Linked DNA regions of Homo sapiens. The protein of the gene in region 2 interacts with the protein of the main gene of each other region in a pairwise test. Each region holds a gene or a part of one and is shown on either strand. Other genes may lie near its edges.

Region 1 (7,687 bases), on a different chromosome or scaffold from region 2:
AAAAGGACAATAAATAGCAAAGACATTTGCAAACCATAAAATGCATAAGGAAGTAATTGTTTTTCTCCCAAGGAGGCAACAATTAATCTTACAGAGGTCTGGAGCTCTAAGATGCCAACATACCAGAAACTCCTCAGACCTGGGCCCTCTCCAAATATCTAAGTCTCAAATTAAAGGAGAGCAGTGGTCAGGCATGGTGGCGCCCATAATCCTAGCACTTTGGAAGGCGGAGGCCAGTGGATTGCTTGAGCTCAGGAGTTTGAGACCAGCCTGGACAGCATAGTGAGACCAGCCTTGCCAACATAGCAAAATCCTGTCTCTACTAAAAACACAAAAAATTAGCTAGGCATGGTGGCACATGCCTGTGATCGCAGCTACTCAGGAGGTTGAGGTGGGAGAATCGCTTGAGCCCAGGAGGCACAGATTGCAGTGAATCGAGATCGCGCCACTGCACTCCAGCCTGGATGACAGAGCGAGACCCCGTCTCAAAAAAAACAAGATAAATAAATGAAATAAAGGAGAGTAGCATTCTTACCCTTTGAGAGCCCATTCTTCTAACTGTGCTGGGTGGCATTCCTGGAGAGGATTCTCTAAGCAGTGTCCAGGTAACCCACTCTTCCCTGAAGTCCCCAGCCACATTATCAAGCGTCATCAGTTCCTAAAGCAAGAGACCTCAATGTGCATCAGTAGCTCCCTAGATATTCTCACCATTGTCTGAAAGCCAAAAAATGGCCACCAGTGTACACAAACAACCCCCCACACCTGACCAGAATGGTCCTGAGGTAAATTCTGTCAACCACAGAGGGGTGCTTTTCTAAGTCTGTTTTTACATACGTCTTCTCCTGGCCAACTTTCCCATTACTAAGAGAGGCCTAGGCCTCCCAAACACATCGACAGAACCCAGTCTTTTAGACACATTGACTTTTTGAGGAACAAATTGTCCACGATGAACAAGGTAAACAAAGGAGAGAGTTGGCAGGTGTAATTTGATTTCTGGAAAGCTTTTGATTCTCCCCAACTTCATTTTCCTCAGCAAGCAAGGAAATTGTGGCCTTAACTATACTCATATTAGTTATGGGAGCAGCTAACTTCTTGGCTTGCAGATTTGGTGTCAACCTCAAGGGACAGATTATACAGAACCCCAAAGGGAACTGTGTTGGATACCATTCTATTTCAAGATCTTAATGGAGTCAGAAATAAGACTGAAAAAGACATTTTTTTTTTAAAAAAAAGAAGACATGGATAGGTTGTAAAAATAAGTGAAAGTGGGAATAAGCACAAAACACAACTCTTAGGGGCTGAAACCAATCATTAATATATTAATAAATCGACAGCAATATCATGAAAAACATTACTTTTTGGAGGATAGTCAAGAGTGAATTACTGGATGGATCAGTCATTTATTCAACAATTAATATGTTGCCAGGCATAGGAGTCACATAGAAATTAAGATAATGTTTTTTCCCTTAAAAAGTTTCCAATAAACCAGCCTCAGCAACATATTGAGACCTCTTTCTCTACAAAGAACTTTTAAAAATCAGCCAGGCATGGTGGCATGCACTTGTGGTCCCAGCTACTCAGGAGGCTGAAGTGGGAGGATCACTTCAGCCCAGGAGTTCCAGGCTGCAGTGAGCTATGATGGCGCCACTGCACCCCAGCCTAGCAACAGAGTGAGCCCCTGTCTCTCCCTTAAAAAAAAAAAAAATGCAGCCAGCATGACCACCCACTACAAAGAATATTGCATTTCAAGGGAGGAAGGACCAGACTGTGGTGAAGAAGTTTTACTCTTTCACATCTTTTGTCCCACTACAAATCACCTATTTACTACTGGAACACACACACACACACACACACACACACACACACACACACACTTTTGGGGGAAATATTTTTGTATTTACAGACATTATTATTGGTCATTTATAAAGTATTGAGTTTTTAAGGATCTAAAAACCATCTCTCTGGTTTAAAACTTTAACAAACAACAATAATGTAATTAGAAAGTAAAAATTGTAATAAGAGTTTTCAGTATTGGCCAGGTGCTGTGGCTCATGACTGTAATCCCAGCACTTTGGGAAGACGAGACGGGCGGATCACCTGGGGTCAGGAGTTCGAGATCAGCCTGGCCAACATGGTGAAACCCTGTCTCTACTAAGAATACAAAATTAGCCGGGTGTGGTGGCACACGCCTGTAATCCCAACTACTTGGGAGGCTGAGGCAGGAGAATCGCCTGAACCCGGGAGGTGGAGACTGCAGTGAAAGGAGATAGCGCCATTGCATTCCAGCCTGGGCAACAAGAGCGAAATTCCGTCTAAAAAAAAAAAAGAGTTTTGAGTATAATTTTTATTTCTACATTCATTACAAAACACAGCTGCAGGGCCCACTTGCTGGAGACAGCGCCACTGAGGAGGGGAGACGTCTTAGCCACGGTTATAGAAACCCTGTTTCCCAGCCCGTCCCTTTCCCCATGCACAGGTGACCTCAAAGGCCCCACAGCGCTGAGGGGCTGTGACTAAGTGCCACTGTGAGAAGCTCCAGTGCGTTCACCGGGTTTATTAATAGGAACATGACTGCACGCGTGGGGCCGAACCCCGTTCTTCTTCTCGGTGCTCGCGCCCTAACCGGGGTGCGGCGGTCAGAGGGTCACAGATCAGCTGAAACCCTGGGACCACCATCGAGAAGCAAGAAAACTGATTAAGAGAATGACTTATCCCGCCGACGGTATAGAGACCACAGCTACCTCTCCCACAGCCCAGCAAGACCCGGGGGCTCCCAAAGGCCAGCGCGGGAACCCCGCTGAGAAAACGTCTGGGTGGCGGGCAAGCCCCCTCCACGCCCCTCAGCAGCGCGCCGCTGCCGCCGCGGTCTCCCTCCTTGAATCACTCACCGCCCCAGGGCCCAGCCGGGGATGGAGCAGGAAGTGAGTCCTCCACCGCCGAGCCGCACCCGGCCCGCAACCCCGAGGCTGTGCCTCCCAGAACCCGACCGGGATTCGTGACAGGGCTGTGGGGACACAGGTGGGACTCCGGCTTCGACAGCCAGCGGCCGGAAAGTACCGCCCCCATCCTCTTGCTATTGGCTTTTCAGTTTCCATGGCTAGAATTTTTCTCTGTCCATAGGCTGATAGAGCTGTCAATTATCGCCTAGCCTTCTGGGAAACGTAGTCCCGAGCAAGACCTCAAAGGACTCGGAGCCGTGGATGTCCAGTTCCAAGCGTTGGAAAGTGCTAAACCCAATTCCCCAGCTACCGGTCCCCCGGAACCGCCTGTTTGGAGCCGAGGGATCTAAATGCTGTATCCTCACTGTGGCATCTGCAGATGTGAATCTCCTGGCCTCACCCACCTACCGCGGAGCAGCCTGGTGCCCACCATGAGGTCTCCCGCGCTCTGGCACTTCGCCCCTCCCCAGCGCAGAGCAGCTCAGCCCTCGGGCCTTTGCGGCCTCTCTTCTGCCCAGTCTTCCACCTCATCCCCGGCGGCCGGAGCCTGCAGGGTGTTTGCGGAGGCCAGGTCCCAGACCAACTCAAACTGGACATTGGAAAGGCCCAGCAGAAGCCCTTAGTAGAAAACAGACATTCCGCATCCTTCCCTTGGCATCAAACTCCCAGGCACATCCCCTTTCCGTCTGGTTGATAGCCAGAGGAGGCGGGCGAGGGCATCAAGTATTCTGGGAAATGTGATATCGGGCTTCAAACTGGGGAGGCTCCTGGGTCTCATGTGAGAGCCAGTGATCACTTTGGGTCGGCCCCTAGCTAAAAAACAACAAAGTCTTTCCTTAAAGTGAAGAAAATGTGCCTGTCTACTCCGTTTGTTGATTCAGTGCAATTTAGAAAAATAAAAGAACATTTTGTGATGTATTATAAAACGCTTAGAATTACCAGCCATAGAGTTTTTTTTTTTTTTTTTTTTTAGACGGAGTCTCGCTCTGTCGCCCAGGCTAGAGTGCAGTGGCACGATCTCGGCTCACTGCGAGTTCTGCCTCCCAGGTTCACACCATTCTCCTGCCTTAGCCTCCCGAGTAGCTGGGACTACAGGCGCCCGCCACCACACCCGGCTAATTTTTTGTATTTTTAGTAGAGACGGGGTTTCACCATGTTAGCCAGGATGATCTCCATCTCCTGACCTCGTGATCCGCCCGCCTCGGCTTCCTAAAGTGCTGGGATTACAGGCGTGAGCCACCGTGCCCGGCCCGAGTTAATGTTGAAGATCCCTTTGATGCTAATTCCACCATTCCTTCAACAAAAATAAGGTGCATTTTCCAGTGGATATTTATTGGGAACATTCTGTTCTCAAGATCGTTCTGGGGGCAGGGCGTGGTGGCTCACGCCTGTAATCCCAGCACTTTGGGAGGCCGAGGCGGGAGGATCACGAGGTCAGGAGATCGAGACCATCCTGGCTAACATGGTGAAACCCCGTCTCTACTAAATATAGAAAAAATTAGCCGGGCGTGGTGGCGGGCGCCTGTAGTCCCAGCTACTCGGGAGGCTGAGGCAGGAGAATGATGTGAACCCGGGAGGTGGAGCTTGCAGTGAGCCGAGATCGCGCCACTGGACTCCATCCTGAGCGACAGAGCAAGACTCCGTCTCAAAAAAGAAAAAAAGAAAGAAAAAAAAAAAAGATCGTTCTGGGAACTGTGATTACTCGGGAATCATACATAACCATTACCTTCATGAAGTTCACAGGCCAAAAGGGGAAATAAACCATAAAAGGTATCAAAATCCTAAGTAATTTTTTTTTCCATATAGCCAGTGGCATCTTAGTTATTTTGCTACACAATTATAGTCATCTGCAAGGTAACTACATTGCATTTTCGGAAACTCTGTCGACTATGAACAAATGTCTGGTTAGCAGAGGTAGTTAGACGTAGTTAGATTTAGTTAGACGAAATTGAGGAAAATGGAAATCTCAGAGGAGGTCAGTAACAAAGTAACACCCAGGAAACCTAGGGATTGCCAGTCCTCCTGTAACTGGAACAGAGTTCAGGACCTGGAGAACCGAAGGCATCTTCAGACCCCTCGGTAAGTCTTTCTAGCATTTTGCCATTAAGGAGATCATGAAGATTATTCTTCAATCTGGGACTGGAGTGGGGAGATGAATGAAGAGTCACAGAATCTGGCTGGTGGCTATCCCCTGCCGCTCTCTGCAGCTTCTGTTCCTTCTGCCTTACCTTGTTCTCTCGGCGGTTTGTTCACAATGATCAGGTGTGTGGGGAGTAGGGGAAAGGAAGCTTGGTCTCACGAGAAGAGCAGTCAGTACAGGAAACCAATCATGTACCCGCAATGGCCACGTGAAGAGAGGATCATTACCTGTTGAGGGGTTGGGTGCTAAAGGGCGTGGCCGAGAGGAGGCGTAGAAGAGCCAGGAAAAACTGTGAAAGGACTTCAAGGAGCATGAAAAGACAGAAAGACTTCAGCACTTGCTATAACTGAATTTATTTATTTATTTATTTATTTATTTATTTTGAGACAGAGTCTTGCCCTGTCGCCCAGGCTGGAGTGCAATGGCACCATCACAGCTCACTGCAACCTCTGCCTCCTGGCTTCAAGCGATTCTCCTGCCTCAGCCTCCCAAGTAGCTAGGATTACAGGCGTGCACCACCACGCCCGGCTAATTTTTTGTATCTTTAGTAGAGACGGGGGTGTCACCATGTTGGCCAGGCTGGTCTCGAACTCCTGACCTCAGGTGATCCACCCGCCTTGGCCTCCCATAGTGCTGGAACTACAGGCGTGAGCCATCGCACCCTGCCAGAACTGATTTTTTTAAAGAGAGAGTCTATCATTATCTATTGCTGTGTAACAAATTACCCCAAAATTTATTGGTTTAAAAAACCAAATATTTGGTTTTTGTGCTCCCAGCTGTTTGGAAAAGCCGCCGGTATTTCTCCACCTGGCTCTCCTCTACCTCCAGGCAGGCGCACCCGAGGTCCCCCTCCCACCCCACCTTCTGCCCTCCCGCACACTTGGACCAGTGCTGTTGACCCGGAAGCGGACATTTCTGCAGCTATTCTAAGCACACGTCGGCGGAGGGAGCGGGACGTGGCCAGCGGTCAGCGGCGAAGGAGGCAGGCCCTGCGCGGGGATCACGGAAGCCCTGTGATTCACCATGAAGTTCCAGTACAAGGAGGTCCATCCCTTTGAGTATCGGAAAAAGGAAGGAGAAAAGATCCGGAAGAAATATCCGGACAGGGTCCCCTTGATTGTAGAGAAGGCTCCAAAAGCAAGGGTGCCTGATCTGGACAGGAGGAAGTACCTAGTGCCCTCCGACCTTACCGATGGCCAGTTCTACCTTTTAATCCGGAAGAGAATCCACCTGAGACCTGAGGACGCCTTATTCTTCTTTGTCAACAACACTATCCCTCCCACTAGTGCTACCATGGGCCAACTATATGAGGACAGTCATGAGGAAGATGATTTTCTGTATGTGGCCTACAGTAATGAGAGTGTCTATGGGAAATGAGTGGTTGGAAGCCCAGCAGATGGAAGCACCTGGACTTAGGGGTAGGGGAGGGGTGTGTGTGTGACTTGGGGAAAGAGAGGGCGGCTCCCACCGTGAGGAGACAGAAGGTGAAGACATATAGAAACTTTACACCGCACACACCGTCAACGCATTTTCACATGCTCAACTGATATTTTTTGTTGCTTCCTTGGCCCAGGGAGAAAGCATGTCAGGACAGAGCTGTTGGATTGGCTTTGATAGAGGAATGGGGATGATGTAATTTTATGGCATTCCTGAGATTTAATTTTTGTGCAGTTTCATAGAAAGGTCGGTCAGGAGGTGGACAAGTTGGGGTCAGAGATGATGGCAGTCCAGCAGCAACTCCCTGTGCTCCCTTCTCTTTGGGCAGAGATTCTGTTTTTGACAGTTGCACAAGACAGGTAGGGAAAGGGGACTTGTGGTAGTGGGCCATACCTGGGGACGAAAAGAGACCCACTGTAATTGATGCATCGTGGCCCCCGATCTTCCGTATCCCACACTTCTTTTCTCCCATCCCAGTTGCAATCTCACTCACAAACATCACAGTACCACCCCAGGGGCGGCAGTAGACACCAACCCAGAAATTTAGACAGGGATCTCTTATCTTTGGAAAATAGGGGTTAGGCATGAGGGTGGTTATGATTAAGAAGATAATTTTGTTGTTAAATAGCATTAAACTGGAATTGACAGAGTGAGTTGAGCATCTCTGTCTAACCTGCTCTTTCTCTCTGGTGCTCCTCATCTCACCCCTACCTTGGAATTTAATAAGCTTCAGGCATTTCCAATTGCAGACTAAAACCACTTCTACCATCTCCTCTAGTATTTTCCATGTATCAGGACAGAGATGTCTTATGTAGGGAAGGGGCAGGTATGAAGTGAGGTAGATTATCTATACCTCTCACTCATTCAGGATTCTCGCTCCCATGCTGCTGTCCCTTCATTCTCACACTCACAGGAATGCTATGTGATGGCCAGCTGCTTCCCTTCTTGGTTATCCACTGCAGCTGCTAGTTAGAAAGGTTTGCAGGGATGACTTTTAGTAAATCATGGGGATTTTATTGATTTATTATCACTTATAGGATTTTGTGGGGTGGGAGTGGGGAGCAGGAATTGCACTCAGACATGACATTTCAATTCATCTCTGCAAATGAAAAGGGTTCTTCCTCTTGGGGGAAATCTGTGTGTCAGTTCTGTCAGCTGCAAGTTCTTGTGT
Region 2 (7,023 bases):
GGTGAAACCCCGTCCCTACTAAAAATGCAAAAATTAGCCGGGTGTAGTGGAGGACACTGGTGGAGGATGCCTGTAATCCAGCTACTCGGGAGGCTGAGGCAGGAGAATCACTTGAACCAGGGAGGTGAGGTTGCAGTGAGCCAAGATTGCGCCATTGCACTCCAGCCTGGGTGACAGAGCGAGACTTTGTCTCAAAATAAATAAATAAATAGACTAAATTTTTCTCCAGTGAAACGGATTGCCCGTAAAATTTTAGAAAAAAAAAGGAAGATGAAGTGTCTACACTCTCCATCCTTGAACAATACTGCAAGTAAAGATCCTCCCGGGTGCTCTATTTAGCTCAAGCCATTACTAGACTGAACTGCAGGAGGAAGCAAGGCCTCACCTCCAGCCAAACATGCAACGGGAAATTCATAACAAGCAATCAGGTATGAATGCAGAAGGGGCTTCCCCAGGAAAAGAAACGAACACAGGAACATTGATAGAGCTAAATCTGCCCAGCCCTGTAGCCTCCAGTGGCCACTTTCCAGCCCCTCTTGCCTGAGGATCCTCAGCAACAAGGTGCCCAGGAACCTGAGGTGGCAGAAACACTACTCCACCCACCCCTCCATCCCTGATACCTGCTGACAGCATTGACCACAAGCCTCAGCTGCTCCTCGGCTGAGGCTGTCTGCTGCTGCCACCGACGCCTGGCCTCCTGAGCACGGCTCAGCTCCAACTGCAGGCCCTGGGGAGGATGCAGCAAAGGACAGGGTCCCTCCCTAAGTCCTGGCTGCAGCCCCGGAACAGGGGCTCCCTTGCCCTCCCCGAGTCTCTAGTAGGCTGACACCAACCTTGGCACCCATACGCTCCACCTCCACCTCTGCGGCTTTGTCCTGCAGGGATCGCTGCAGGATGGCCTGCTCCTGGCTCTGGGATGTCACTTTTTCCTGGAGTGAGGCCACCTGGGGGAGGAGAGAGAGCTAGGCAGGGCCCTCTAGAGCTAAAAGATGAGGGGGGCACTGGAAGCAAAGTGGCAGGTGCAGAGATCTCTGTAAGAATGCCATGCAGGGGCTGGGGGGAGGGGGGGCGGGCGACGGGGGTGGGTTGCAGCACGGTGGCTCACACCTGTAATCCCAGCACTTTGGGAGGCCGAGGCAGATGGATCACTTGAGGTCAGGGGTTCAAGATCAGCCTGACCAACATGGTGAAAGCCTGTCTCTACTAAAAATACAAAAATTAGCTGAGCGTGATGGCATGTGCCTGTAATCCCAGCTACTCGGGAGGCTGAGGCAGGAGAATCACTTGAACCTGGGAGGCGGAGGTTGCAGTGAGCTGAGATCAGGCCACTGCACTCCAGCCTGGTGACAAGAACAAGACTCCTTCTCAAAAAAAAAAAAAAAAAAAAAAGAAAAGAAAAAGAATGAATGCCACGCAGGGAGACAGAAGCTTAGGTTCTGAGGATGGAATCTGAGCCCAGTGTTCCATGTTCCACATTCCATGTGCCCACTCAAAGATGGGAATAGCCCTTGACCCACCCCACAAGACCCACCAACTGACCATGCCACTCTCCTCAGATGCTGTCACCTCCTCAGAGAGGCTGTCTCTGAGCATCCTACCTGAGGCTGACTCACCCCACAGTCTCTCCGTCACATTATCTTTTGAATTTTTCTTACTACTTTCTTTTTTTTTGAGAAAAGATCTCGCTTTGTCACCCAGGCTAGAGTGCAGTGATGGGATCACAGTTCACTGTGGCCTCGCCTCGACCTCCCAGCCTCAGGTGATCCTCCCACCTCATCCTCCAGAGTAGCTGGGACTACAGGAATGAGCCACTATGACCGGCTAATTTTTTGTATTTTTAGTAGAGACGGGATTTCACATGTTGCCCAGGCTGGTCTCGAACTCCTGACCTCCAGTGATCCACCTGCCTCGGTCTCCCAAACTGTTGGCATTACTTGACTGGGCACGGTGGCTCACACCTGTAATCCCATCACTTTGGGAGGCTGAGGCAGGTGAATCACCTGAGGTCAGGAGTTCAAGACCAAAGTGATCGCATTATAGGTGTGAGCCACTGCACCTGGCTTCAATCTTTCTATCGCACATATAATTACCCAACATTATCTGTTTACTTGCGTGTTCTGTGTCTCTGTTCTAGAATGCAAGCTCCACATTTTAGTTTTGTTCAGGGCTGTGTGCCCAGCATGTGGCAACCACTCAATAAACACTGGTTGAATGGATGCCACCTTCATGGAAGGAGCAAGGTGCTGGGAGGGAATACCGGGAGAAAAGAGAGTGCAGTGACCTGTCCCTTCAGCTGCTTAACAGAGTCACTGTGTTCCAGCTCCTGGGCCTTTAGCTGCACCATGAGGGCAAACACCTTCTCCCGCCAGCGGTTCAGCAGGGACTGGCACTTCCTGGTAAACTCAGGCTCCAGGGAATCTGAAGGTTGAACCTGAGGGAGAAGGAGTGGGAGAAAAGTGTGGGCTCCTGGGGGAGGAGAGGAAGGAGGTGGCATCTTTGTTTCTCCTCTGTCCTGCCTGGGCAACATGAGCTACAGCAAGAGGAGTTCACAGGAAGGAGATCTAAGCAGGTTCTGGGGCACATTGACCCCTCCTGCCCACAGGGAGGGAGGCAGGGGACAGTAGATGCAGGATGCGGCTGAGGGTGAGGGGTCTGGGGGTTGGGCTGTACCTTCCTGGTCAGCTCCTCCTCCTGCAGGGCGAGGATGTGTGTGAGGCTCTGCACCCGCACCTGCAGCAGCTCCGCGGTGGCATGCAGGCTGTCCCGGTCCTCCTGCAAGTGCTGCGGGCAGAGGAAAGCAGCCCCTCTGTAGGGCCTCCATGCCGCCTTAGGTACCACCTTCTCTCCCGGAGGCTGTGCTCTACACGCTCCTCCAAGGGCCACGCTTGCCTCCCAACCTGATCCCTAAGTCTGCACACAGATACATTCCTGCACCCTCACCTGCATGGTTTCCAGAAGCTTCTGTCGCTCCAGTTCCCATGTCTGGCTGTGGACCTCAGAAGGCACTTGTTCCCCAACATATTTTCTTAGATTCTCAACCAGGGTCACCTGAGCCTCCAAGTCTTCCTGGGTCTTGCTAGGGTTGGGGTGGGAATGGGACAGCCATCAGTGGGGCGCCCTGCAGATCCACCACATCACTAATTGCTGGGCTCCCGTCGGCGTCCGCCCACCTACCTCAGCTGCTTCCGAAGCAGCTCGGCCTCCCTCTGAGCCTCGGCCAGCTCCTTGGCTTCCCCTGCTCTTCTGGTTTCCAGACTACTCAGAGACTTCTCCAAGCCCTCAGCCTTGCTGGTCAAACTGGAAAGAGCCTCCTCGTGAGCCTGTGTCAAAGAGGACAGCTGCGGAAAGAAGAGGGGGCTCAGCAGAGGCTCGACCCCACATGGAGGCCTTCCTTGTTCCCTTCACTCCCACTTTCTGTGACCTTAGAGAATGACCCAACCAATCAGCCAACTGTGCACAGCAAATGGAGAGCTGGCAACTCACTCTCCGCAGCTGCCCCACAACCCATCAGGAGTTCTTGTCCGATCTCCCCCAAAACATATCTTCACCTCTCTGTCTCCGTCTCCACTGCCACCAACCCTCATCTTTTGCCTGGGCAACAGCGACCATCTCCTAACTAGTCTTTACAAACCCTCAGTGGCTTCTCACAGCATTCACAACAAAACCCAGGTGTCTCTCCACACCTGCAGGCCAGGGGACCCGGCCTCTGCCTACCTCCTGAGCTCACCCTGGAGGCTCTCCCACTGCTCCCCGCTCCGGCCACGGGGAGTCTGCTGAGAACCAGACAGCGGCCCCTCCTTGCTCCACAGACCCCAGGCGATAGCCCCTCCTCAGGGTGGCTTCACTGGGCCCTCTAATACCGTCCCTCCCCACCCTACTCTGCCCCATCAGCTGTTCACGTCCTCCTGAGCACTTAGCACTGACCATATCTTGCTTATGTGTATGTGTTACTATCTGTCGGACCACACTGGAAGGAAAGCTCCAGGAAAGGAGGAATTTTGTGTCTTTTGCTCATGGCACCTCAAAGGGTTGCAGGGGTGTCAGAGCCACCAAGAGTCATGGGATGGACTGGAAAGGAGGGCAAAGTGCCCACCCTGCTTCCTGGTCTGCCTCCTCTAGCCCTGTCTCCATACAACAATAAAATTAATTTGGGGGACATAAATGACAAAATTTTTTAGACATAAAATACAAATCTAATCATGTTATTTCCCTGCTTAAAACCTTTCAACAGGCCGGGCGCAGTGGCTCATTCCTGTAATTCCAGCACTTTGGGAGGCCGAGGTGGGTGGATCACAAGGTCAGGAGATCGAGATCATCCTGGCTAACATGGTGAAACCCCGTCTCTATTAAAATACAAAAAATTAGCTGGGCGTGGTGGCGGGCGCCTGTAGTCCCAGCTACTCGGAAGAATGACTTGAACCCGGGAGGCGGAGCTGGCAGTGAGCCAAGATCGCGCCACTGCACTCCAGCCTGGGCGACAGAGCGAGACTCCATCTCAAAAAAAAAAAAAAAACAACCTTTCAACGGTTGCTTATTACTTGAAAAAACAATTTTTTTTTGTTTGTTTTTTTGGAGATGGAGTTTCACTTTGTTGCCTAGACTGGAGTGCAATGGCACGATCTCAGCTCACTGCAAACGCTGCCTCCCAGGTTCAAGCGATTCTCCTGCCTCACCCTCCTGAGTAGCTGAGATTACAGGCATGAGCCACCACGCCCAGCTAATTTTTGTATTTTTAGTAGAGATGAGGTTTTACCATGTTGGCCAGGCTGGTCTCGAACTCCTGACCTCAAGTGATCCACCCGCCTCAGCTTCCCAAAGTGCTAGGATTACACATGTGAGCAACCATGCCCAGCCCTAATTTCTTCCATAAAATAGAGATGGGGGTCTCGCTTTGTTGCCCAGGCTGGTCTCAAACTCCTGGGCTCAAATGATCCTTCCACCTTGGCCTCCCAAAGTGCTAGGATTACAGGTATGAGCCACTGTGCCCAGCCTGCTCATTGCTCTTATGGGAAAGTAGCAAGTTCTGAAGTGGCCAAAGCCTTGTGCCCTGGGCCCTGGGCTCTGCAGCACACTCAGTGCCCCTCATCTCTGTGCCCCAGCCTTCTGGCCTCCTGTCCCCGCCTTCACCTGTTGTCCCACCAAGTGTCTTCCAGCTACCACTGGACTTCACACGCCTCTTCACTGGCCAACTCCTATTCAGCACAAACGGTAGCTTGTTGTTTTTTTAGTCTCGCTCTGCTGCCCAGGCTGGAGTGTGATGTCAGCTCACTGTAACCTCTGTCTCCCAGGTTCAAGCAATTCTCCTGCCTCAGCCTCCCAAGAAGCTGGGGGATTACAGGCGCCCACGACTATACCCGGCTAATTTTTGTATTTTTTTGTAGAGTTCTTCATGTTGGCCAGGTTGGTCTTTAACTCCTGGCCTCAAGTGATCCGCCCACCTCGGCCTCCCAAAGTGCTGGGATTACAGGCATGAGCCACTGTGCCTGGCCTAGCTTCTTGTTTCTAAGTTTCTTTCATAAATCTCCTTTGTCCATTTTCTGATTGGATTGCTGGTCTTTCCCTTACCAATTTCTAGGCACACATTTTATATTAGGGATATTACCCTTTTCTTGTGATCTGAGCTATAAATATAGCTTTTTTTTTTCTTTTTGGCTATTCCTAATGTTCATGTTATAAAGTCAATGGATCAATTTTTTCCTTTATGGCTTCTAGATTTTGGATTTTGACTCACAGGTAGAAAGGCCTTGCCCACTACAAGGTTATAAAGGAATTCTCCCTTGTTTTCTCCCAGTTCCTTTTTTATTTTATTTTTTGAGACAGAGTCTTGCTCTGTCGCCCAGGCTGGAGTGCAATGGCACAGTCTCGGCTCACTGCAACCTCCACTGCCCAGGTTCAAGTGATTCTCCTGCCTCGGCCTCCCAAGTAGCTGGGATTACAGGTGCGCACCACCACGCCTGGTGAATTTTTGTATTTTTAGTAGAGACAGGGTTTCGCCATGTTGGCCAGGCTGGTCTTGAACTCCTGACCTTGTGATCTGCCTGCTTCGGCCTCCCAAAATGCTGGGATTACAGGCGTGAGCCACTGCGCCCAGGGCTATGGTTTCTTTCCTTGACATGTCAACTGGTTACAGTGGCCTTCCCTGAACCCCAGACTAAGTTAGTGCTTTCTAGTCCTTCTCCTTCAAGGCATTCCTCCTGATTGCAATTAATTATGATTAAATTAAATGTGGATGTGTATATCCCCCACGAGGCTGTCAGTTCCATCCACGAAGGCAGGACTCAGGCTAATTTGGTCACTGAGTCTTAGAGATGGCAAAGAGTAAGTACTGAGTTTGAGGACTGAATAATCTCTCTCTCCCAGTCCACCATAGCCCCCTTATACCCACCTTCCTCACTGCCCTCCACAATACCCCTGATGAATTGGTACCTGGAGTAAAGTAGGGAGGCAAACTATTTCCTACTAGAAAGGGAAGCAGGGCTTCAAGTGGTGGGAGGCCACCTGAGTCTTGGGGGAAAAGTGCAACCTGAATTAAGATAAAAGTACCCAAATTCTCCATCTTTCTAGGCCATGTGTGTTTATTTTCACCAAAGGTCTCATCACTCTACTACTCACTACTCATGGAGGGTCTTTTCTGCAATACCTGTTCTTTGCTTGGAAGCTACTGCCCAGCTCTCCGTTATGAATTTGAATCCTTTCTACCCCTGCATTCACCTGCTCTTGGTGCAGCCTCTGAACCTCTTCCAGCTCCCGCTGGCTCCCCTCTTCCAAGTTCTTCCGGACAACCTCAGCCCCAGCCAAAGCAGCACGCAGGCCCTCAGCCTCAGCTCGGCCGGCCTTCTCCGCCCGTGCCAGAGCCTCTAGCTCCATGGCCTGGGCCTCTAGCCTCATCTTCTGCTGCAGCGAGGTCTCCCGCAGGAGCCGGACCTCCTCCTCCAGCCGCCGCAGCTCTTGCAGCTGCCGAACGATCACCTCAGCCTGCTGGCTCAGGGCCTGTGACCCCTCCAGCCCCCAGGACCTTCAAAG
Region 3 (7,091 bases), on a different chromosome or scaffold from region 2:
CCACCATGCCTGGCCCAAAGTATCTTCTTTGAAGCAGAAATAAAATAATATTTTACACTAAGTCAAAAAATAATCCTTCTTCTGTACACTCACAGCTTTTTGTTTTTGTTTTTGTTTTTTTTTGAGACTAAGTCTCGCTCTCGTTGCCTAGGCTGGAATGCAATGGCACGATCTCAGCTCACTGCAACTTCCGCCTCCCGGGTTCAAGCGAGTCTCCTGCCTCAGCCTCCCAATTAGCTGGGATTACAGGCGCGGGCCACCAGGCCTGGCTAATTTTTGTATTTTTAGTAGAGACGGGGTTTCACCATGTTGGCCAGGCTGGTCTCGAACTCCTGACCTCAGGCGATCTGCCCACCTCAGCCTCCCCAAGTGCTGGGATTACAGGCATGAGCCACCGCACCCGGCCCACTCACAGCTTTTTATCTGGCATTTTTCACATTCTACTTTGTGAGTATTACTTCTGAATGTCTATTTTCCCCCACTTCTAAATTAAGTGAAAGCAGGCTGGGTGTGGTAGCTCATGTCTGTAACTCCAGCACTTTGGGAGACTGAGGCAGATGAATCTCCAGAGGTCAGGAGTTTCAGACCAGCCTGGGCAACATAGTGAGAACCCCGTCTCTACCAAAAATACAAAAAAATTTGCTTGGCGTGGTGGCGGGCGCCTATAATCCCAGCTACTCGGGAGGCTGAGGCATGAGAGTTGCTTGAACCAGGCAGGTGGAGGTTGCAGTGAGCCGAGATTGTGCCACTGCACTCCAGCCTGGGCGACAGTGCAAGATCCTGTCTCAAAAATAAATAATAAATAAGTGAAAGCAGAGACTATATCGGATACCTATCTGTATGCTTTTAAAATGCCAAGCATACAGGAGGAATACAATAAACACATAGTAGTGGACTAATAAATGTTAATTCTACAAAAGGTTAATTTATCTTTAGCTTTTCTGAAGTGATTTTTTTCACCCTGGTAATTTTTAGCTTGGAGAATAATTCATCACTAAGTGTGGGCAACATTTCTGCTAACGCTGCCATCAAAGAACTTTCCCTTTTTGGGGTGGGGTAGGTCTCCCTTTGCTGTCCTCTCAGGAAAAGTTGAGCTCTGAAGAAAAATGAGTCTAGCAAGGGTGTATTACGAACGCAGCAATCAAATAACTGCCAAATTTACTGAACTTTTTCAATTTGCTAGGTACCCGTGGGTACCAAGGTGTGGGGATTCTTTGAATCCTCACTCCCACACTTTTGGGGCAAGCTGCTTTTTCAAAAGCAAGCAAGCTCTGAAAGAGTATGTTACTTGCGCAGTGTCTTACAAGGGATAGCTGTGTCATTTCAAATACAGATGTCAAGGCTGGACGCAGTGGCTCACGCCTGTAATCCCAGCACTTTAGCAGGCCGAGGCAGGCAGATCACCTGAAGTCGGCAGTTCGAGATCAGCCTGACCAACATGTAGAAACCCTGTCTCTACTAAAAATACAAAATTAGCTGGGCGTGGTGGCGTATGCCTGTAATCCAGCTACTTGGGAGGCTGAGGCAAGAGAACTGCTTGAACCCGGGAGGTGGAGGTTGCGGTGGGCTGAGAACGCGCTGTTGCACTCTGGCCTGAGCAACAAGTGTGAAACTCCCTCTCAAAAAACAAAAACAAAAACAGACGTCCAGTAAAGGATGCACAGTCAATAGGGACTGATCAACACTCGAAAAAGCACAGTAGGAGGCCGGGTGCGGTGGCTCACGCCTGTAATCTCAGCACTTTGGGAGTCCCAGGTGGGCAGATAACCTGAGGTCAGGAGTTCGAGATCAACCTGGCCAACACAGCGAAACCCCATCTCTACTAAAAATACAAAAAATAGCCAGGTGTGGTGGCGGGCGCCTGTAATCCCAGGTACTCGGGAGGCTGAGGCAGGAGAATCGCTTGAACCTGGGAGGCAGAAGTTGCAGTGTGTTGAGATGGCGCCATTGCACTCCAGCCTGGGCGAAAGAAACGCCATCTCAAAAAATAAAAAAATAGTAGGGCCGGGCGTGGTGGCTCACGCCTGTAATCCCAGCACTTTGGGAGGCCGAGGCGGAAGGATCACTTGAGGTCAGGAGTTCGAGACCAGCCTGGCCAACATGGTGAAACCCCACCTCTGCTGAAAATACAAATATTAGCTGGGCGTGGTGGCCCACGCCTCAGGCACGAGAATCGCTTGAGCCTGGGAGGCGGAGATTGCAGTGAGCCGCGATCGTGCCACTGCACTGCAGTACAGCCTAGGAGAAAAAAAAAAAAAGGCAAAAAAGCACAATATTGCAGTCTGCAGAATCTTCTTTCTCCCCCTTTCACAAGAGACCACATTCTGACACCAACTTCCGTGGAAACACTGGCGCTAGCTCCAAACTAACAATCGCCAAATTCGAATCAGTTACCGGGAGAAGGAAGTGAGGCACTTCGCCGGGCAGGAGTCCACGTTGGGAGGAGGAAAGGCGCAGGCTCCCGAGTTGTGGAGCCAACGTTCAAATCCTTACGGGGTGGGACCGGCCTGGGCCAGTCATTTTACCTGCGCCTCAGCTCTAACAGGGTACTGAAATACCTACTTTGGGGGGCCTGCTAGGAAATTCAAATGGGCAACGCTGGTCAGGGGCATCTGGCACAGTGGCCATTCTTGGTAGAGCTACGCGCTCCAGGGCTGAGCGGGAAATGGCGAGGCCGGGGCACTGGGGCACCGCCCAGACGCGGGGCGGGCCCCCGGGGTCAGGCCCGGCCCCACACCGCCCTCCCCCACAGAGCGGCGAGGCCCGCCGCTGCCCGCCCGCCGGCCCGCCAGCCTGCCGCGTCAAGCCCGCCGCCGGGGCCCGCAGCCCGCGACTCCTCCCCCGCCGCACCTCGTGGCCCCCGCTTCTCCCTAGTCCCGCTAGAGGGGCTCGCGCTCCGCCACCCGCCCGCCCGCCCGCCCAGCGCTGCCTGGCGCCTCACCTCGCCGAGACCCCCTAATCCGCGCCAAAGAGCCGCCGGTCGCGCGCGCCTCCGGGCTTTGCGTGCGCGCCCCCGGGCGGCGCAGTGGCGAGCGCGCCGCGTGCCGCGCGCCCGCCGCCTCCGCCCCTCGGCCGTGGAGGCCCCCGCCGGGTGCTGAGCGCCCGCCACCGCCCTCTTGGCCTTTTCCCGGTCCCCGCCGCGCGCCTGCTGCTGTCCCCGTGCCCGAGGACTGGGAGGATGGGGCTGAGCCGCTTGCCTGACTTTTGATCCGACCAGTAATCACTTTGCCCGTGTGGCGCGTGGCCCGTTGCCTGAGGCTTCCTGGCGCGTGGGGCTGTTTGGTCCCCTCCGGAGTGCGGTGAGGCGGGCCGAGCCGGGACTGCCTGGGTTTGGGGATAACGTTCCCATCTCCACCCCTGTTGCAGCAAGGGAAATTGAGGCTGAGGGAACTGGGCCCAGGGACGGCGAGCCGTGGCGCCTCTCCAGTCCGGGCCCCGAAGGGCTGCTCGTGGATGAACCAGACTGATTTTAAGGGGTGAAGAGGGTGCGTTTCAATCAGATGCTCCTGGAACGTCGAAATTGTCTTCTTTGGAAAGAACCATCCCCTCTTTGGGCTTCAGAGGCCCAAATTGAGGCGCAATGATGAGAGGATGTGGTGGTCTACTCTGATGTCAATCTTGAGGGCTAGGTATGTCCCAAGATCTCTTATTACTGCTGTTAATGATGATTCTAATAGCTACCATTTGTCGAGTACTTATTGCATGCCAGACATTGCACAAAGCAGGTTACACATACGGTCTCATTTAAAACTTGTGAGGTAGGCACCTGTTGTTATCCCTATTTTCCAGGTGAAGAAATCTAGGCACTGACATAAATAACTTGGGATCACACTGCTAGGAAGTACTGGGGAAGGGAATTCAAACCATGGTTTATCTGAACTATATAACTGTTACATCTATTTAGAAGTCTGCCTTTGATAAATTTGCCCAACCTTTTTTTAGAATTCACTTACACTTTATGCCTGTGTGAACCCTTTCATTCTTTTTTGGTATATGCATAATACAAGTTCATTCCAAAAAAAAAAAAAAAAAAAAGCCCTGCCGGGCGCGGTGGCTCACGCCTGTAATTCCAGCACTTTGGCAGGCCGAGGCGGGCGGATCACAGGGTCTGGAGTTCTAGACCAGCCTGACCAACATGGTGAAATCCCGTCTCTACTAAAAATACAAAAAATTACGCGGGTGTGGTGGCAGGCACCTGTAATCCCAGCTACTCCGGAGGCTGAGGCAGTAGAATCGCTTGAACCCTGGGGGCAGAGGTTACAATGAGCCAAGATCTTGCCATTCCACTCCAGCCTGGGCAACGAGAGCGAAACTCTGTCTCAAAAAGAAAAGAAAAGGAAAGAAAAACCACCTCCCACCAGGTTAAATAAATAATTAACATTTTGGTATGTACCCTTCCAGACATTTTCCTATGCATCACATCAATAAATATATGATAGGATATTTTACATTTGATGTATCCTGAAGATTAATTCAACAAATGTTTAGTGAGTAGGCTTGTTGTAGGTGCTGGGAATTCAGCAGTGAACAAAACAAAGTCTCTGCCTCATGGAGCTCATATTATAGTAGGGAAGACTGTCAATAAGCAATATACACATTACTAAATGATAGATAATGCCCAGTAATGTGGCAAGTTTTATGGAAAAATAAATCAGGATAAAAGGATAAGAGTGATATGGGGATTCTCTTAGTTAGGGTAGATAAGGAAGGCCTCTTAGCTAAGGAGGCACATAAATATCTGATCATTTAATGAGAGAAGGAGCAACATGGATTTCTAGAGGGAAACTATCCTAGAAGAGAAGCAGCAAGTGCAGTGACCCTGAAATGGGGATTTGTTTGGCATGGAGAAAGGGCAAGACCAGTGTGGCTGGAGCACAGCAAATGAGAGAAATTAGATGGAAATCAAGGCAGATCATGTATCATCTGGTAAGGTTTGGATTTTATTGGGAAGTGACAGAATATGACGAAGGGTTGAGAGCAAAGGAGTAGCTTTGCTGTAAAAGGATCACTGTGGGCTGGGAGCGGTGGCTCACACCTGTAATCCCATCACTTTGGGAGGCCGAGGCAGGCGGATCACTTGAGGTTAGAAGTTCGAGACCAGCCTGGTCAACATGGTGAAACCTCATCTCTACTAAAAATACAAAAAAAATTAGCTGGGCATTGTGACGGGCGCCTGTAATCCCAGCTACTCGGGAGGCTGAGGTAGGAGAATCACTTGAACCTGGGAGGTGGAGGTTGCAGTGAGCCAAGATTGTGCCACTACACTCAAGCCTGGGCAACAGAGTGAAACTGCATCTCAAAAAAAAAAAAAAAAAAAAAATCACTGTGGCAGCTGTGTGGAGAATGGATGGTAGAAATATTAAAATTGCCCTTTGCCTGGTGAAGTGGTGTGTACCTGTAATCCCAGCTACTCGAGAGACTGAGGCAGGAGGATGGATTGAGCCCAAGTTTGAGACCAGTCTAGGCAACGTATCGAGACCCCCATCTCTAAAAAAATTTTAAATTGCTCTCTAAGGCATAAATTGTCCTTTTACATGGTAGTTGTTCAACAGATAGTTGATTAACATTAGTGTTTCACCTATAGCTGTACAGCTTTACAACCACTCTCAACTTCACATAGTGGAAGTGGGGTCAGTCATTTAGGACATATCTGTGTCTTTGTCATTGAAACTCAAATTTTGAGACTGGCTAAGGCAAATATCCAGATCTGGATGTCATGATTGTCAACAATGAATATCAGTAATCAGTGTTGTAATACTGTAGAAAAATTAGTCCCACATAATACTGAGATCTAGTCGTTAAAAACATAGCATTCAGGGGCCAGGCACAGTGGCTCATTCCTGTAATCCCAGCAGTTTGGGAGGCCAAGGCAGATGGATCATTTGAGGCCAGTAGTTCAAGATCAGCCTGGGCAACATGGCGAAAACCCATCTCTGCTAAAAATGCAACAATTAGCTGGGTGTGGTGGCGCATGCCTGTAATCCCAGCTTCTTGGGAGGCGCAAGAATTGCTTGAACCCTGGAGGTGGAGGTTGCAGTGAGCTGAAATCGCACCACTGCCCTCCAGCCTGTTCAACAGAGCAAGAGTCTGTCTCAAAAACAAAAAAACAAAAATCATAGCATTCAACTACCTGGAAATTACCCTCTCCCTTCAGTTGATGTTAGGCTCTACTTAGACCAATTTAGTCAGTGTGCTTAAGAAAGATGTGGAGAGGGCAGGACACGGTGCCTCACACCTGGGATCCCTGCATTTTGGGAAGCCAAGGTAGGCAGATCACTTGAGTTCAGGAGTTCAAGGAGGCATGAGAACTGGGCAACATGGTGAAACTTCGTCTCTACAAAAATTGCAAAAATTAGCCAGGTGTAGTGGCGCATGCCTGTAGTCCCAGCTACTTAGGAGGCTGAGGTGAGAGGATCACTTCAGCCCAGAGGGTTGAGGCTGCATTGACCCAGTATCACACCACTGCACTCCAGCCTAGGTGACAGAGTGAGACACTGTACCAAAAAAAAAAAAAAAAAAAAAGATGTGGCAAAATTAACATGCACAGTGAGAAGAAGGGTAACACTGATTACTGATTAAGGCAGTACTCCTCTGGGTTTTTGTCTTAAGTGGATGTGATAGTGGCATCACTTACACGACCAGCTGAAGGAAGAATAGATTTGGAGGAGAAATTGAAAGTTCTGTTTTGGATCTGTGTTTTGCATTCTGACTGGAAATGACAAATACAAGTCTACAGCTCATTGGAGGTGTCAGAACTAAAACTGTATAACTGTATTAGAATTGTTTATTTGGCTGTGTGTCTTACCTAGACAGACCTTGAGGACAGACACTGTTGTCTTTGTAACCTCAGTGCTCTGAAGTGTATCCTCAAATACTTGTGAAATGAGTAAGTAAAGGCAAAAGTAAAAATGAAGTCACTGGCTGGGTGCAGTGGCTCACGCCTGTAATCCCAGCACTTTGGGAGGCTGAGGCGGGCGGATCACGAGGTCAGGAGATCGAGACCATCCTGGCTAACATGGTGAAACCCCATCTCAACTAAAAATACAAAAAATTAGCCGGGCGTGGTGGTGGGCGCCTGTAGTCCCAGCTAC
Region 4 (7,023 bases), on a different chromosome or scaffold from region 2:
AGCTGTGCATGAACGGGGCTGCCAGAAAAGTTTTCTTCTTTCTTTAGCAAAGGAAGTTCAGCTAGGCTGACTCAAACTTAATTCCCTGATTAAAATGCTAACATATGTTTGTCTCTTTCCTGAATTCCCTCAACACAGAACAGACTGTAAAAATTAAATGAAAATAAAACACCAACTAGGCATCATTTACCAAGAGACTGCAACATAACATCAGATCTCGCAAAGCAAACAATCTGTAAGAGAATCAGAAATCACATCTATACTGAAAGGGCAAAAGGGAAAAGTAGAGACGACCTCTGAGATGGAGATAGCAGGTATATTCACTGCCACACTATATGGCTCTGTCCTTCATGCTCTAAACACATAACCAAGATTTCTTCCTGAGGACTACTCATTTTCTGCCCAAGTCTCTCACCATCTTTTCCTCCACAAGCCTTCATCTCTCTACGTCTGTTCTGAAAAAATAAAGATGAGCCTCAGGATTCCTGGTTTCACAAAACGGAAGTGGCAGTGCATCATATGAACAGGACGGCCTGTGTTCTAGTGATGGCAGGGCCAGCCCTCTCCCTCTGGCCACACGCCTCATTGTCCCCCTGCTGACACATGAGGATCAAGACTGGCCATGTCTGATATGGATGGGGCCAGTCCTTTCCCTCTAGTCACACGCTTCCCTGGGGACACACCTTTCTCTGTGGCGTCGCCCACGATGATCTTGCCGCCACGCTTGCTGGTCTTCTCCACTGACAAGGCAGTGCTCAGGCCCTGCTCATGCTTCCCCAGACCCTGGCCCTCCCGGAAGCCGTACTTCTGCATGATCTTGTGCGCCACCGTGCCCCTGGCAGGAGAAGAAGGGAAAGGACTCTTAGCCTTGACATCGTCAACTGGAGATAGGTTGCATTTTTCCATCACAACAACCTCCTTCTGGAGAGAGTGCATGCTCCACAGGGGCTTCAACAAAGTCACTCATTAACTAGGAGTGGGCTATTAGATGGAAGCTGTGGGGATGTGCAGCATGAAAGAAATAGAAAAAGCTATGAATAAAATCCAGAACATCCTGTTGTCTTGGAGGGGAAATGTCAGTTTCTCTGGTGGAGTCTCCTCAGTGCCCTGCTAGGAAACACAAGACCTTTTGTGTGCTCCGGACCTGCACTGCCACATAGCTTATGACCACAGTTTATTAAAAAGTGGCTATCAAAAAGTAAGTATGAAGTTTCGTACAATGAAGATGATCCCATTTTCCTAAATAGCACAGGAGAGTTTCCAATGACAGACTATACAAATGAAAGAACCCTTAGAGATCACCTATTTAACAAATGAGAAATAAACGGAGGCCAAGATTAGCTGACTAGCTTAAGGGGTGGACTTAGAAGTAATGCAAGACGCCATATTAGAAATTATTTGTACAGGCTGGGTGCAGTTGATCACACTTATAATCCCAGCACTTTGGGAAGCCGAGGCGGGTGGATCACCTGAGGTCAGGAGTTCAAGACCAGCCTGGCCAACATGGTGAAACCTCATCTCTACTAAAAATGTAAAAATTAGCTGGGCATGATGGTGTGCACCTGTAGTCCCAGCTACTTGGCAGGCTGAGGCAGGAGAACTGCTTGAACCTGGGAGGCAGAGGTTGCAGTGAGGCGAGATCGCACCACTGCACTCCAGCCTGGGCGACAGAGCGAGACTCCATCTCAGAAAACAAATAAATTATTTGTACAGCTGTTAATGGTAGAGCTGAAACTGGACCCCACAACTCTCAGTCACTGCTTTCTGTAACAACCAAATGGCTCTCACACTGCGCTCTGAGGCGCAGCATGGGTCTGAAGGGCACCCCAACCCCATGACCACTGCTGCTTAGGGCTTAAGCCACAAAATCCCGCTTCAACTGGAACTGCACCTACATTACTTCTTGTATTTAATTCCCTTAACATTTTCATTTGAACAAGCTATTCTAGGGCTAAAAAGACCAGAAACTGCTGAATGGTACCATCTTGCATCTTTCCTAAGCACAAGTTAAAGATGTAATTCCTGGTTAAAAGCAAATTCGCTAAAAAGTCAGTTTTTATCATAAACAGGGAAAACAAAACAAAACAAAACAAAACCAGCTTCATGTCTGTCCAACCCTCCAGTACACAAAGCTTCCTGCAGCCACGGCCATGTCCTATGTCTGCACCATCCAACATCGTCACCACTTGCATGTGGTCACTGAGCACTTGAAAGGAGACTAGTGAGTTTCAACCCCACTCACTGTCTCACCGGCTGCATTTCTGCTACAGGCAGCAGCCAGCAGATGCAACACAGCACAGAACAAAGCCTTCATGTGATACTGCTTCATGGGACAGCCGTCTCACAGGATCAAAGTCAACAACACAGAATATCCTCTTAACCAAAATGTTTGCCAAGCCCAGCACAGTTTAAAAAAATCCCCAAGCCCCACCTGAGCGTCAGCCTTACAGTCAAATTTTATATGCTGGCAAACATGTCAACTTGTAGTTAGAATGACCCCGAGTTTTTTAGACCAAAGGTTTAGAACCATGACCTGAAAGCAAATGGCCCACTTTATCAGGAAAAAAAAGGTATCACCTGCCCTTTGGAGACAGTAAGTCAGCTCTGATTCATATGAGCTATTTTATTTGCAAACGTTATGAAGGCAAATGTAAACATTAATCAGGTTCTGTGCCTGTCTAGGAAAATAATGTTCAACATCAAAATGAGTCAAAACTTCTACTGGGAGGTTGCTGTTTTGAACAAGCCCCATCATTACACTGGAACACGCTCCACACGATTGAGGCAGGTACCGTGTGACCTGCACACACCAAGGGTCCTGAATGTCCTCAGTTTCAAACAAGCTGCATCTATTGAAAGGGCTATCAACGCTTCACACTGTCTCTCAAGTCCTTAGATAAGAACATTAAATCATTACCCCATGTTAGCGAGGAAGGAGTTGCTAGGTCCGGTTGGAGATCTCGGTCTGTCTTGTTCCTCGTACACTGGGGGAGGAATGGCTGCTTTGGAAGACTGTGATCGAGGTCTTGAGTCCTCTTCATAAGGAAAATCTCGGGGTACTATTGGAGAAAAATAAAGTAGGCTCACCAAAATACTATAGAAAACACTCTGAAACCTCACTTGTATCAATTATTTATCTTGAACAAATTTAACCTACTTTTTGGTTTACCACAAGGAGAGAAAAACACCAAATCAATTTTACAGCCTTTATACGACTTTTTTTAAAACCACAGAGGGAGGACGCTACTTTCCTGATTCTAACTTTCCTTTTGCTATTTCTATCTCCTCAAACGTCTTTTTTATATCTTACTGAAATGTTATTCACCCTTTAAAATCTTCTTGAATGAATATTCTTGCCGGAAAGATGTTCTGTATGTTCTAAGGAGATACAATCTGGCCATCTTTTGACTCCTGCAGTAACTTGGGTGCACCTGTCTAGACCCCGACCTCACTATCTCATCAGCTCATGGCCCACAAAGGTGTCCGAGGTTAGGGGCTACGCACTGGAGCGGTGGCTTCAACCCTAGTTAGATGAAAGTCAGTAGGACGCTTTAAGACCATCCAGATGCCTGAGCCCCACTCCCAGAGACTAGTTTCAATTGGGGTTTATTGTTTGTCTGTTGTTTTCACATAATAGGTATTTCATAATATCTTAGAAATTATCTTCTTTAAAAGATAAAGAATTCAACAAGTTTTAAAAAGTACTATAAATGAGAATATCTGCTTGGGATAGTTTAAGTATGGTCCAATCCAGAGAATGGGAAAATGACCTAGATGATATTCAGAAGTCCAGTCCCAACCCCCAAATTCTAGAGCAGATCACTGCGAGAAGGAACAGTGGGTGAGGGTGTTTTGGCAACGCAATGACACGCAAACCCACCTGCAGTGAAATGGAACGGGAAGAAAAAATCTAATCAAGGAAGGCATTGCCACCTTGTGGAGGATCATGAATATAACAGCCTCTAAACCTCTGAGTTAAAAAACTGTAACGATCTGCTGTTTTAACTCCAAATGAATCTAACAACAAATAAGAAATGTTAATGAAATCAAAGTGAATTGCATAAAAAAGAGATGGATCCCACTGCATGAAATCCAAGCCTCAGAGCCTGGCGTAGAAAGGTCTCTCTCTGCAGGAGGGCGCTGCATTCTGAGATCCAGGTGCGGCCTCAGGTGACAGAGCCAGGCAGGCTTGCAGGCCGTTTCCCTCTACGCTCAGGAAACCTGGGGGCCCAAGCTGAGATCCCCCATGGTTGGGTTAAAGACCTGTATCAGAATAAAAGAGGAAGAAACAGATCTACTTACACTCTTTGTCTTTCTCTACCAGAGAAGTGGGTGGGGCAATGGCAGCTCCGCCCATACCTGCAAAACCACAAATCCAAGCATTAAAGGAGGTTTCCGATGCCAGACTCCCAAACGACTATGACACACCATATATCTATCACCCACCCCCCTAAGAAAAAACTAAAAAAGGAGGACCTGCTACTTCAGATGACCTCCTGCTACATATGAACAAACCTCTGATGCTAGGATTTAAAATGTAGAAAAGTGGCAACACTCCCTCAGATATGCAAAATTGTTCCTTCATAAAAGGAACTCAAGAGCCCCACAATGTAGTCTGCAAATGAATTTTAAGGCAAAACAATACAACCAAGAGAACCAGCAGTTACTTAAAAAGAGAGTAATGTAACTATTTACCGAGAGCAATACCCATTAGGCCCTTTATACACATGGCCTCGTTCAGGCTTCACAGACCTCTGAAGTAGATATTACTGCATCCAGTTTACAAATAAGAGAATGATCAGAGGGGAGTGAATCAACAGAAAGGGAGTAAACCCAGCTCCCTGCGTTGCCATATCTCCCCCACCACACAGCACGCTCCTTTTCCAGTGTGCAAACCACTGGAACTAAACACATATTTGAAAGCGTGGGTCCTTCTGGCTCCTGAAGAAACTGCTGCGTGTTGTCACTATTCCTGGTGTATTTCCTGGACAACGAATGGTGAACACAAACAAACCAAAAGAGATAAGACAGATCTTTTTATCTGGTATCCGACAACTGGAAGGAGAACATCAGTGGAGACCACAAGGAATTTTGCATTAGGCATAAGTCCTAACATATATGGATTACGTATACATAATATTACATAATACATATGTATTATGGCTTAATCAACAATGAAATAAAAACAAAATGTAAAACTTTAAAAATTGATTACAAAGTCATGCTGCATCAGCACAAAATGTTTGACAAAAGAAATTATTCTGGCTGGACGCAGTGGTTCACTCCTGTAATCCCAGCACTTTGAGAGGCTGAGGCAGGCAAATCACTTGAGGCTAGGAGTTTGAGACCAGCCTGATCAACATGGTGAAACCCCATCTCTACTAAAAATGCAAAAATCAGCTGGGCATGGTGGCACACACCTGTAATCCCAGCTACTTGGGAGGCTGAGGCAGAAGAATCATTTGAAACTAGGAGATGGAGGTTGCAGTGAGCCGAGATGGCGCCACTGCACTCCAGCCTGGGCAACAGAGCAAGAGTGTCTCCAAAAAAAAAAAAAAAAAAAAAGAGGCCGGGTGCAGTGGCTCATACCTGTAATCCCAGGACTTTGGGAGGCTGAGGTGGGTGGATCACTTGACGTCAGGAGTTTGAGACCAGCCTGGCAAACATGGTGAAACCCTGTCTCTACTAAAAATGTAAAAATTAGATGGGCGTGGTAGCGCACACCTGTAATCCCAGCTACTCTGGAGGCCGAGGCAAGAGAATTGCTAGAACCCAGGAGGTTGCAGGTTGTGGTGAGCCGAGATTGCACCACTGCACTCCTGCCTGGGCAACAGAGTGATTCCATCTCAAAAATAAATAAATTCATTCTTCTAAAGAATTATTCTAGAAATTATTCTAAAGCCAGTGTCCATGCATTTTGATTAACAGGACTGGATGATATAAAATCCTCAAGGAGAAATATGAACCTGAGTAAAACCTTCTTCTATTTCCTTTGAAATACTTCCATGATCATTTTACTAACCTTGTCACTAGGACCTAGAGTGATTACTGATTCTGAAAAGCAGATTAGCTCTAATAAGTTCAGTTAAAAAAATTCAGGGTGATTACTGGAAATCTGCTACTAATCACATTAAAATAAGAACATCAATCTGTCAACAACTATACATATGATGGGCATGCCACTACCTCCCTATCATGAGCTACAAGGTCAAACAAAGTCTTCTCATTCAAAGCTATCTAGTTCCTGCTGGTGTTTAAGAAAAAAAAACAAATGTCCTTAGTATGGAAAGCATGCCTCCTTATTAAAAAGGGCAGTCAATTTATAAGCTGGAAAAATGAGACCTACAAATATTCAACCTATATACTGAATTCCAAAAGAAGTTAATAAAAACCAAACATTTGGGGATTAACTAAGATAGCGGATATGAAATGTGTCACAATGCCCAAAACAGACACACTCAATGTTAACTATGCTTCCCCCCTAAGAGAAACAACAGAGTGGATTCAGCATCGGCCAACTGGACTGTGCTGCAGGTAAAGACAGTGCAGGAATAGATTTTAAGCTAGTCCCAAAGTATCCAATAAATAAATGTTAGAAAGTGGTTGTGAAGCTCAAAGGAAAATACATATGAAAACCCAATATAAATTAAAACTGTGACGCAAATGTGTATTGCTGGGATTCCAGAAAGAAAATTACCCAAATCAATGTCAAATGAACTATTTATCAAACTGAAAAGAAAAAGCACATAGTGGAATTGCACTTCCAGTATTTATATATGTTTAAGACATATTTGTTCATGCCTTACTTCTTTTCCTCCTCTCTCGCTCATAATCTTCATCTTCATCAGAATCTGGATCTGGTCTCCTTGCAAACCCACTTGCTTCATGTCTGTCTTTACGCCTTCTGTGATAACAAAGGAAATAAATGTTCATCACAGATGAACCAATTTAGAGACCTGAACCTGGGATGACTTCCTCTTGACCAGAAGATATCCAAATCCTGTCACAATCAACTATGAAGTT

Evidence for each region.
Region 1: the proteins of CCHCR1 (region 2) and ZNF774 interact in binary tests that used the Homo sapiens proteins (3 or more experiments, as listed by UniProt).
Region 3: the proteins of CCHCR1 (region 2) and TADA2A interact in binary tests that used the Homo sapiens proteins (3 or more experiments, as listed by UniProt).
Region 4: the proteins of CCHCR1 (region 2) and RBM17 interact in binary tests that used the Homo sapiens proteins (3 or more experiments, as listed by UniProt).

Annotation. Positions count from the first base shown.
Region 1 is NC_000015.10:90,347,613-90,355,299, reverse strand, and holds the start of ZNF774 (zinc finger protein 774), read right to left. Parts: upstream 3,017-7,687; 5' UTR 2,889-3,016; intron 659-2,888; 5' UTR 640-658; coding exon 536-639; intron 1-535.
Region 2 is NC_000006.12:31,147,785-31,154,807, forward strand, and holds part of CCHCR1 (coiled-coil alpha-helical rod protein 1), read right to left. Parts: intron 7,016-7,023; coding exon 6,712-7,015; intron 3,339-6,711; coding exon 3,175-3,338; intron 3,077-3,174; coding exon 2,941-3,076; intron 2,782-2,940; coding exon 2,671-2,781; intron 2,432-2,670; coding exon 2,282-2,431; intron 945-2,281; coding exon 834-944; intron 728-833; coding exon 621-727; intron 1-620. UniProt on the Homo sapiens protein: May be a regulator of keratinocyte proliferation or differentiation.
Region 3 is NC_000017.11:37,402,800-37,409,890, reverse strand, and holds the start of TADA2A (transcriptional adapter 2-alpha), read right to left. Parts: upstream 3,006-7,091; 5' UTR 2,942-3,005; intron 2,668-2,941; exon of another isoform or gene 2,395-2,667; intron 1-2,394. Other genes in the region: ACACA (acetyl-CoA carboxylase 1), read left to right, coding at 3,592-3,629. UniProt on the Homo sapiens protein: Component of the ATAC complex, a complex with histone acetyltransferase activity on histones H3 and H4. Required for the function of some acidic activation domains, which activate transcription from a distant site. Binds double-stranded DNA.
Region 4 is NC_000010.11:6,106,022-6,113,044, reverse strand, and holds part of RBM17 (splicing factor 45), read right to left. Parts: intron 6,905-7,023; coding exon 6,807-6,904; intron 4,360-6,806; coding exon 4,303-4,359; intron 3,060-4,302; coding exon 2,918-3,059; intron 836-2,917; coding exon 684-835; intron 1-683. UniProt on the Homo sapiens protein: Splice factor that binds to the single-stranded 3'AG at the exon/intron border and promotes its utilization in the second catalytic step. Involved in the regulation of alternative splicing and the utilization of cryptic splice sites.